Regions from separate parts of the Homo sapiens genome. Here region 2 is linked to region 1. Evidence: fine-mapped expression QTL. A gene starts in region 1. The other region holds a variant in brackets. All regions are shown on one strand. Distances are between the middles of the regions.

Region 1 (5,380 bases):
GGGCAGCTGCCTCCCAGGCTTGGCTGCCAAAGAGGGAAAGTTGTCACTGAGTCTGCCAGGATGTGTGATAACTTCTCATTAGTGGCTTCTTGGTGCCGTTCCCAGTTCTCTGATTTGAGCAAGATGAGTCAGGAGCCCGAGGGTGCTCGGTGAGTACGTGGTGACTGATTGTTACTTTACACTTAAGCCTGAGGAAACCCAGCCAAGATTCAGAGGCACTTGTTCATTCAAATCCCAAGTCAAGAGGTTGAGAGTCAACCAGGGAGGGGGGAAAAACACCATGGCTCAGGTGGGCTTGGCAGCACACAGGTGCCCAAAGCAGAGGGCTTCCCCTCCAAGAAACTTCAGGAGATAAGGAAAAATCAGAAAGTAAAGGGCTTCAGCTTGAGCATTTTATATGCAAACAGAAGGGAGGACAAAATAAGGATAGGGGCAAAAAGAGGAGACCACTGCAGCTGTACTCCCTCTCAGAAGAGATGGGACTGCTTCTGAGAGTTGAGCCAGGCAGAGATGGACAGGCCATTCAACGTGAGATCTGGAACATAACTCACCCCGGCACCACTGCACCACTCTACCTCTGCTGTGTGGCTCTCGAGAGAAAAAAATGCAGTTGCCACTAGTGAGTGCTTGGCAGTCACACTAGCCCAGGAAATGCAGAAGGGAAGGGGGCTACACTTCTGAGAGTTGACCAAGTGGCAGGTGTTTCATACCCATGCCTTGGGGATTTCCATGATCCATATCCTGTCCATTAAATCCTCACAATAACCCTGCGTGATCATGTTGTCCCCATTTTACAGAAGAGGAGGCTCAGGAAGATTCCATAAATTGGGCAAAGTCACTAAAACAACATGTGGCAGGCTTGGGAATTTCAACCCACGCCTATCCAACCCCATACCCCACGTTCCTCCCCCTCTGCTTCCCGGGGCCACTTCAGCGGGACTTCCAGCCTCACCTCCTCATGGTTCTTTTTGAGGCACATCAGCTCCTCCTTCAGGGACTCAACCTGGGCCTCCAGGTCAGCCTTGCACAGAGTGAGATCATCCAGGATCCTGCGCAGGCCATTGATGTCGGCCTCCACCAGCTGCCGCATGGCCAGCTCTGCCTCGTACCTGCACAAGGACAGGGTCAGCAACCAAGGGTGAAACAGAATGCAGAACTCAGGGAAGGCCTTAAACTGCCGGCACTTTCCAACCCTCCGTGAAACTAATGGAAAGTTGCCCCAGAGCCTATGAGGACAGGTCCTCCCCAGCTCCAGCCCCCCGACTGAACTCACTTGGCCCTGAAGTCATCGGCAGCCAGTTTGGCATTATCAATGTTCACAACCATCCTGGCATTCTCTGCCTTGGTACACAGAATCTGTAGGCCAAGGCACATGGAGAGGGTTAGTTCAGGATGAGACGAAGCAAGAAGAACCCAAATGAAGAGAAGACAGCAGCAAAGGTAGGATCCAGCAGCCCTGCAGCCATCCCTGCAGAAGGTCCTCTTCCCTGGAACTCTGGGAGATATTTAGCGAATTGCTAGTCCTTGGAGAACTTGAGATGTATTTTTTAAGAACCTGAAGCTTCGTAAATTCAAATTCCCCATTTTGGATGTGCCAAGCAATGTGGAAGGGAAGAATCTCATGTCTGAAGTCACTCATGTGACAGTTAGAAGGGTCTTTGACATTTACTGAAAACTTACCGTGGACCAGGGGCTGTTCCAAGCACTTGACCTGCATCATCTCATCAAATCCTTTTGACAACCCCATTAGATAACGACCATTATTATCCCTGTTTTACAGATGAGAAAACTGAGGCCTGGGGAAGGGATGGGACCCCCAAAGTCATGCAATGAGGCAATGGTAGAACTGAGACTAGATCCCAGATCTCTCCACATGAAAGCCTCAGGCTGAGTGCTCAAATTATAAAATAACCCTATGCCCTAGGGAAGTCTCTTTGTCCTGAACATAGCTTAATAAGCTAACGAGATTCCAATCTGGAATGCCAGCTAGTCCAGTTCCCTTCCCAGAGAGCCTATTCACCTCACCGCTGCCCTCACCTTCTGCTGGAGCTCCTCAATGGTCCTGAAATGAGACTGGTAGTCAGGAGTCATGGTGAGCACCTGGGAGTGAGAGGCCTCTTGGATCCTGCTCTCCAGCTCCGCATTCTCCTGCTCCAGCTGCCGCACCCTCGTCAGGTAGCTGGCCAGGCGGTCGTTAAGGAACTGCATGGTTTCCTTCTCATTGCCATTGAAGGCCCCTTCGCTGTACCAGCTGCCGGGGCCCATGGAGCCGGAGATGCCACTGGCTGCCTGGCAGGAACTGGATAGATAGGTTTTGGAGAGGCAGCTGGCTGGCCGGAAGGTGGTGGGCAGGCAGACCGAAGGCAGGCATGCCATGGGCTGGCAGACATAGCCCAGGCACAGCTCAGGCCGGCAGTTCACGCCGCTGGAACAGACCGAGGCAGGCCGGGGGCAGCTCTTGAGAGAGGCTTGCAAGTTGTTGGTGACACAGCAGGAGGATGTCATGTTGGAGAGGCCCTTTCTCCTCAGCCACAGCTACCTGGATGTCTACAGACCCCATGCCGCCCGGGCCATTTTATGCCCTTGCAGTGAGGGGGCTCATGATAGAAATTCATCATTGGGTGGTGTTGATGTTCACACCCAGCCCCAGAGGAAGCTGCTAATTAATTTGTAATTTGGTTTCCAATAAAAGAGGCCAAACTTATCATTTGGCTAAAGCAGGAGTCTGGGTTCCTGTCATTGATCACCATGAGAGAGCTTCAGGACACATCTTCAAAGGGTCAGCCGCATGCCTGGGCCCTCATTACTAGGGCAGGCCCTCCAGGAGACTGCCACAACCCAGCCTGTGCCTCCACTGGCTTTGCCCACTGCACCCCCGCCTGCTCTAGCCCTGAGAAGCCTGCAGGTCTGTGCAGCAGTGGCTGCCTCTTTTAATGAAAGCATTCCCCATGGGAAGAGGCCTGGCTATTTAACAAGGAAATGTGTGGGTGGTAGAAACTGCTCCGATGCTGGCAGCGGCATAAATCCAGCAGAAAGGAACAGGAACCTCAGAGGCTTCCTAACAGACATCATCTTCCTGCCAAGGGGAAGAAAATAATATCAGTGGGGAGAGAATGAACTCAAGACATAGGCAGCATCACTTCTCAGCCTTTTGGCTAAGATCAAGTGTGGTATCTGTTCTTATCGTCTTAATATCTGATACGTCCTCCATCTGAGGACAACATATTAAATGGATTTTGGGAGCAGGGAGATGGAATAAGAGCTTGCTCTGTTCACTCTACATGTTGACCTGGTATTGCAGTACCTCCAGGAATGCTGCACCCCTTCAAAAGGCAAAAAAAAAAAAAAAAAAAAGACCCAAACAGAAGCCTAAGAATCAGGTACATCTTTCCAGTTGGTCTCTTCCTCTTGGAAAAGTCCATATCATGAACATCTCCAGGTGGCAGCTGCTCTGTCTTGACCCCCTCTGGACCATCCATTCAATTATCACTGCACCATATACACAATTGTCAAGTGCTCAATAATTGTTTGTTGAACAGACTGAGAATAGTTGGAACAGGTTCTACTTTTACTTTCTGTTGTGGCAGATGGGGAAGGCTCACTTCAGGATCTCAGACTATGGAAGCAGTGTGAATCCACTCCCTTGGGAAAGGATGTTCTATAGCCCTGGAATGAGCTAAGCCAGGAGACAGGGAGCATATTTGCCCAACTATAGAAGCCCTGGGCATTCACTTAAGAAGGCAACATGCTAGAGCAGTGGTTTTCAGTCCTGGCTGCAAAAGCTGTGAGCTTCACATTTAGTATGTGTGTGCTATATAGCCACTTTTTTATTCAGTAATCTTCTTGATATAATTTTGGGGTATAAGTACTTGCCTTATGTTTCACATATTCCCAGAAATGTCAGTACAAGAACAGGAAAGGGAAAATGCCACCCAGCTCATTCATTGCATAAGAAAAGGAGAGCGTAGATATACTGCCTCTGACTTGCCATTTGGCCTTGGGAAAGTAATTTTGTCTCTCCAGACCTCAGTTTCTTCATGCCAATCGAGGGGGTCAGATCAAATACTCTCACAATTTGATTCTCTGCAACAACTACAAATTCCAGTACCTTGTCTGGATTACCTATTTAGAGAAGATTATAGCATCAGATGGAAGGAGGTGTGATGGCAATACCAACTACAAGGGATGAGACTCATCAGGCCACCCTTCAGAATCATAGCCAGCACTTGTGGAATGTATACAAATACCAGGCATGGTGCTGAGTGCTTGGCATTAATTTGCCCATTTAATCCTCTCACCCAAAAACTATAATTATTATAATAAGGTGTTATCAGTCACTCTCAGCATCAACCTGACTCAGGAACATGTTAGAAATGTGAGTTTTCACCCTAGAAGAAAGTCTAGGCAATACCATTCAGGACATAGGCATGGGCAAAGACTTCATGACTAAAACAGCAAAAGCAATTGCAACAAAAGCCAAAGTTGACAAATGGGATCTAATTCAACTAAAGAGCTTCTGCACAGCAAAAGAAACTGTTATCAGAGTCAGCAGGCAACCTATAGAATTGGAGAAAATTTTTGCAATCTACCCATCTGACAAAGGTCTAATATCCAGAATCTACAAGGAGCTTAAACAAATTTACAAGAAAATAACAAACAACCCCATCAAAAAGTGGGCAAAGGATATGAACAGGCACTTCTCAAAAGAAGACATTTATGTGGCCAAGAAACATATGAAAAAAAGCTCATCATCACTGGTCATTAGAGAAATGCAAATCAAAACCACAATGAGATACCATCTCATGCCAGTTAGAATGGTGATCATTAACAAGTCTGGTAACAACAGATGCTGGCAAGGCTGTGGAGAAATGGGAAAGCTTTTACACTGTTGGTGGGAGTGTAAATTAGTTCAACCATTGTGGAAGACAGCATGGTGATTCCTCAATGATCTAAAACCAGAAATACCATTTGACCCAGCAATCCCATTACTGGGTATATACCCAAAGGATTATAAATCTTTCTACTATAAAGACACATGCACAAGTATGTTTATTGCAGCACTATTTACAATAGCAAAGACTTGGAACCAACCCAAATGCCCATCAATGACAGACTGGATAAAGAAAATGTGGCACATATATACCATGAAATACTATGCAGCCATAAAAAAGAATGAGTTCGTGTCTTTTGCAGGGACATGGATGAAGCTGGAAACCATCATTCTTAGCAAACCAACACAGGAACAGAAAACCGAACACCACATGTTCTCACTCATAAGTGGGAGTTGAACAATGAGAACACATGGACACAGGGAGGGGAACATCACACACCAGGGCCTGTCGGGGGATGGGGGGCAAGGGGAGAGAGAGCATTAGAACAA
Region 2 (5,380 bases), 73 kb before region 1:
TGTACATTAAAAATGGCTAAAATGGTAAATTTTATGTTGTACATATTTTACCACAATAAAAATAAAATCAGAGGTCTGGCAAGGTTACGTTTCTCTTTAAAGGGTCTAGAGGAGAATCCTTGCTTTTTCCAAGATCTAGAGATGACCTGCATTCTTTGGCTCATGACCCACTTCCTCCATCTTCAAATCCTGCAAGGACAAGGCAGGTTCTTCTCACATCACATCACTCTGACCTGGGTCCATAGTTTCATCACCTTCTCACTCTTCTGCCTCCCTCTTCCACTTTTAAGAACCCTGAGTCCACCTGATAATCCGAGATAATCTCCCTATCGTAAAGTCAGCTGATTAGCAACTTTAATTCCATCTGCAACTTCGATTTCCTTTTTTATGTAATCTAACATATTCCCAGGTTCCAGGAATTAGAACATGAACATTTTGATGAGGGATGGAGGGGACAATTATTCTGTCTACCACAGGAGCTATTAGCAGTACTTTTGTATTATTGTAAAATAATATACATAAGCAGGATGTGGAATAAAGAAACAAGCAACATGAGAGAGAGCCTCTGGACTGAGCTTGACCTTGGGTTTGGAGGAAATCACAGACACAGGGTGAATCATAGTAGAGACAGAGTTCCAGGTCAGAGGTTTCTCACAAGCCAAGCAGCAAAGCACAAATCCAAATCCATCCTGGAACTTGAGTTTTAAAAAGAAGAATCAAGGGAGAAATTATGGTGGAGAGAATCATCGCTTTATGAAAACAAACAAAAATATATTTTTTATATATATTTATATATATATATATATACATATAAAATTCCGATTCACTTGATCATTTTAGGACACAGGACTATGTTTCACCCAGGTGGAGTCTGATACCCGCTGGGAAAGCCTGGTGTGGTGGGAAAAGTCAGAGACCTCTGATCCCTTCAGATCAAAATGGCCCTCTATGTTTTCGGGAGGTCTATGCTTAAACACTTCCATGGGTCTTCATGAGAGTCAAAGAAAGATGCCCTTTCTTGATAAACACCAATGCCATTGGGTACCAGCATTGTCCCTTTCGGTACTCAGAGTTCCTTCTAGCACCCACCAGCTGTTCACAGTGCCAGGGGACTGGGCCTTATAAGAGCACTACTTGGGGACTAGTTTTTTAACAAATTATCAGTAAGTTGCAGTCAGGAACTGTGTGTTTCTTCATGTGTCTCTACCCATCCCACCACCCAGCGTCTGCACAGAGTAGGTATTCAACAGGTACTGGTTGGATTGAATTGAGAAAGGCCAAAGGATCAAATAAAGAGTTGACGGGGTCTCTAAGACCTGGAGTCGAGGAGGGAGGACAGAAGCTGGAAGCCCAGGCTGATAATGATCAACCCACACAAGGGAAAGGAGGAATTCCTGGGTATAGCAGGGCAGGTCAGAGGGTTTCTTCGCTGGGAAATGCCTGGACCACCAATAACCCAGAATAATACAGCACTGAACCTGAAACTCCTGCTGAAAGAACATGAGTTTTCCAGAGCTTCTTTCCAGCCCGCAGCTCATGCCTCCTCCATTCAGAATAGGATACAAGCAGCTCTGGGAGATGTCCAAGTTAGAAGGGAAATCCAAGAATAGCTAAGGGGAGATAGGGACTGCAGCACTCAGCACCTCCACCCTCCTTCCCACTGGCCTGCCTGCCTCGCTCCTGGGTCCAGGGCACCAGATTCACCATCTTCCCCTGAGGCATGAAACTGCTCTGGTATCCAAGAGTCAGGCCATTATATGGCCTGTCTTTCAAGTGGCTTTTTATAGCGTACTCAGGTGATGAGCACGTTGAAACAAATGAATACAAATGAAAAAGGCATCTGCTTTGCCAAGGAAATGATATTTATTAGGAGGTTAAAAGGGAGGCCCACTGGCACATCAGAGAGTTCTCTGGGTGAGCATAGGAAGGAACAGACCCCCAGGAAGGAAAGGGTGAGCAGGACAGTCTGGAGTAGTTGGGGAGGCTACAGGCTTTGGGTGAGTTTCTTGGCTGCCTTACGCGGGCAACTCCAGCCATGCAAATGATGTTTTCAGGCCCCTTTTGTTGAACCAGAGCCAGGTCACAGCTCTGGAGTCCTGGGCCCTGCATCCTTGCTCCTCTGGCATTCCCTAGGTTCTAGCGCACGAAGGAATTGCAGGGCCCACAGCGGGGGCGTGGGGCACAGGGTGTGCAGGGGGCAGGAGGGACACAAGAGGTACAGGGATTGGAGAGACAGGGTCCGATGGGCTTGCTGCACGCGTTGGTCGTGGCACAGGGATTGCTGGGCAGACTGGAGACAAAAGAATGATGTGGAAAAGTGAGTTAAGGGCAATTTTAAAATCATATGCCAGAGATATCCCCAAGGGTAAGAATGCCTGGGTCAAGGGACTTGACCTGGCCTAGAACAGAAAAGGCACAGACTCCCCTGCTACAAAGATAACTAACTCAAATTGTTAATGGTCTCCCTGCCATAGAGCACCAAGGTAGACAGAAACTCTGAAACTCTGATGTCTACTCTCAAATCCATTCATGCCAAACTGATGACATGGGGTGAGTCATTTACCTTCTCCAAGCCCCAGTTTACTTTCCTGTAGAATGGAGGGAATACTGATCCAGCCCACCTGGTGGTAATTATAAGATCAAATCAGGTAGCCTATGGGAATGTACCCACTAGGCAATACAGTATTGTAAAAAGTAAGGCATTGATCACATATCATGCAGTCATGCATATTATCATACTAGAATGCAAAGACTTGGCAGTGCAATTTCAGTTTGTACATCAAACAACTCTTGCTACCAAACCATTTATGTTTTAAATGATGGCCATATTATGTTGTCTGAGTTCTGTTTGAGCATGTCTAGTGTGAAGGCATAATTTCCTTTCCAAGGTATGCAATATTTGCATGGTGTCTAACTGTTACACTCACACGTGCATCATTTCATCAAACACGTCTGCCCATGTACTCA[C/T]TTGCAGTCCTCGCTCTCCAGCAGGCTCCGGTATGTGTTGATCTCACACTCCAGCCGGGCACGCACATCCAGCAGCACCTGGTACTCCTGGTTCTGCCGCTCCAGGTCACTGCGGATCTCCGCCAGCTGGGACTCCACGTTGGTGATCAGGCTCTGCACCTGGGACAGCTGGGAGCTGTAGCGGGCCTCACTCTCTGTCAGCGTGTTTTCCAGAGAGTCTCGCTGTGGTGGAGAAGATTGGGAATGTCAGAGAGCTGCTCCTTCAAAGGGTTTCTTCACAGGATTACAAGGAAGTCACAAGCTCCAAGAGCTAAGGAGAGTGTGTGGCCCCAAGCACATCCCCGGGACTCTGCCTCCCAAGTTCCCGTCGCTCACCAGCAGGTCTGAACAATACACACCAGGTTGTGCTGGGCCTGCAGCTCGATCTCCAGGGCGTTGACTGTGCGTCTCAGCTCGATGATCTCCGCCTGGTAGGACTGCAGCTGCTCTGAGCTGGATACCACCTGCTTGTTCAGCTCCTCGGTCTGAAACACCCAAGGGGAGAAAGGATCAGACCCTGCCTCCGGGGCCCTGGGGGGCCTTGGGTCCTGAGGGGCCACGTGCTTAGATGCCCACCTGCGTGGTGAACCATTGCTCCACTTCCCTGCGGTTGGTTTCCACCAGGGCCTCATACTGACTCCTGGTCTCGTTCAGCACCCGATTCAGGTCCACAGTGGGAGCAGCATCCACCTCCACATTGAGGCGGTCTCCAAGCTGGCAGCGCAGGGTATTGACCTCCTATGGATGCAGAAAATACAAGAGTTACTATGCTCAGCAAAGAATGAACTCTAAGGAATGGCATTGCTTGTTGAAACCCTGTTAGTCTATTTTCTCGGAAAAGAAACTTTGAGTGGAGCAGTTTGTGACAGCTCAAGGCACTCCATGTGGCATAGCCCCCTCCCCACCATCTGCTGTGCCATGGCACTTGGCTTCAGAAAAAAATCCCAAAAGTTTGCTTGGATGCCACTGAAGGATGAACTAATTGATATTCAACTTTCCCAGTTTACAATTGGCTGTGAGGACCTCAGAATGCCAAAAAAAATAGGCTGTGCAATTTCAGACCATATATCAAAAAACTCTTGCTGTCAAGTAAGAGGTAAGAGCATGTCATGGCCCCTCCCAAGAGAGAGGAAGAATCTCACAAACACTCTTCACCAATACTTTGAAAGAGTAGAGACTCACATTTATAAGGTTTGATATTTTTTTTCTTGGCCTTTGCCAAAAAAAAAAAAAAAAGACTTTACAAAGCAATAACACTGCAATGCTAGGACTCATTCTACAACTATTGATCAACTGCAAGCACATGGAGCTGCTCCGGGCAACTCAAATAATGTGCTAGTTTAAAGTGAAAGATGTTTCCTGTCTGGGAACATGAACAGGTCTTATCTCTCTCCAATTTTTCTCTTACCGTGATGTTTTCAAAGGAAACCCTCAGTCTTGTACTCATACTCTGCATTCTGCTGCCCCAAATCACTAAAGCAACCCTGAGCCAGAGGCTGAGACAGGTTTGTGCATTTCTCATTTCTAGTCTCACCTGCTCATGGTTGCTCTTGAGGCAGAGCAGCTCCTCCTTCAGGGACTCCACCTGGGCCTCCAGGTCGGACTTGCACAGGGTCAGCTCATCCAGGATCCTGCGCAGACCGTTGATGTCCGACTCCACCAGCTGCCGCAGGGACAGCTCGGTCTGGTACCTGCGCAAGGACAGGGTCAGAGTACTACCTGGTAGATCTTCAAGACTCACAGGAATGATTTTTGATAACCTCATGTGCCTTATCTTTCCACTTTCTGTAATGAATAGGCCCAGGAGACAGAGGTTTCTGGAGGCTCCATCAATACCCAATATTCATCCCAAAACAAACAGATTGATGTGAGTCCTCATCCATTTTTGCATTTCTTTGCTTGGTTCTCCCCAGTCCTCTGCAGAATCCTTCACAACAAGTGGGTAGATCTGTTTTCAGATGGAAATCCCTTTTCTTTAAAGATTAAACAGAAGCAATTGACACTAGTGCAAATTCCGAACAACTCACTTGGTTCTGAAATCATCCGCAGCCAGCTTGGCGTTGTCGATCTGCACCACAAGCCTGGCATTCTCAGACTTGGTACACAGGATCTGGGGAGTGAGAGGTGGCTTAGTGAGGACTGAAAATAAATATGAAATCATCAACTTTTTAAAAATGACTTAAGCCATTTTGAAATAAAAGAGGAAGCAAGAATTATGACAGCACAGAAGCAAGAAACACACTTCTCTATCACAGACAGAATCACAGCAAACTCTCTTGCTTGGAGATGACAGCAATGCCGCTCACCTTCTGCTGGAGCTCCTCAATGGTCTTAAAATAGGACTGGTAACTGGGGCACAGCAAGGGCTCCTGCT

Direction of the effects. Positions count from the first base shown, and alleles are read on the strand shown. Sizes are in standard deviations (SD) of each study's normalised expression.
With allele T in place of C in region 2, the expression in unexposed skin of the gene that starts at base 2,566 in region 1 is lower (moderate effect, 0.54 SD a copy in GTEx).

What was found. PIP is the estimated chance that this variant, and not a neighbour inherited with it, causes the effect. A credible set is the group of variants that fine-mapping cannot tell apart.
Region 2: its variant is the best candidate, but not a certain one, in a credible set for the expression of KRT32 in unexposed skin (GTEx, PIP 0.72).

What each region holds. Positions count from the first base shown.
Region 1 is chr17:41,464,821-41,470,200 of GRCh38, forward strand. KRT32 (keratin 32) reads right to left here and starts at 2,566. Exons shown (of 7, transcript NM_002278.3): 1 at 2,038-2,566; 2 at 1,274-1,356; 3 at 953-1,109. The coding sequence starts at 2,505. It also overlaps the pseudogene RNU2-32P.
Region 2 is chr17:41,391,880-41,397,259 of GRCh38, forward strand. It overlaps KRT31 (keratin 31), which reads right to left. Exons shown (of 7, transcript NM_002277.3): 1 at 5,313-5,380; 2 at 5,034-5,116; 3 at 4,541-4,697; 4 at 3,583-3,744; 5 at 3,366-3,491; 6 at 2,969-3,189; 7 at 1,842-2,290. The coding sequence ends at 2,137. Among named protein-coding and RNA genes, the nearest start is that of KRT31, 3.0 kb to the right of the region's middle. RefSeq lists enhancers at 1,654-2,155, 2,156-2,655. The variant C/T (reference allele first, on the strand shown) is at 2,968.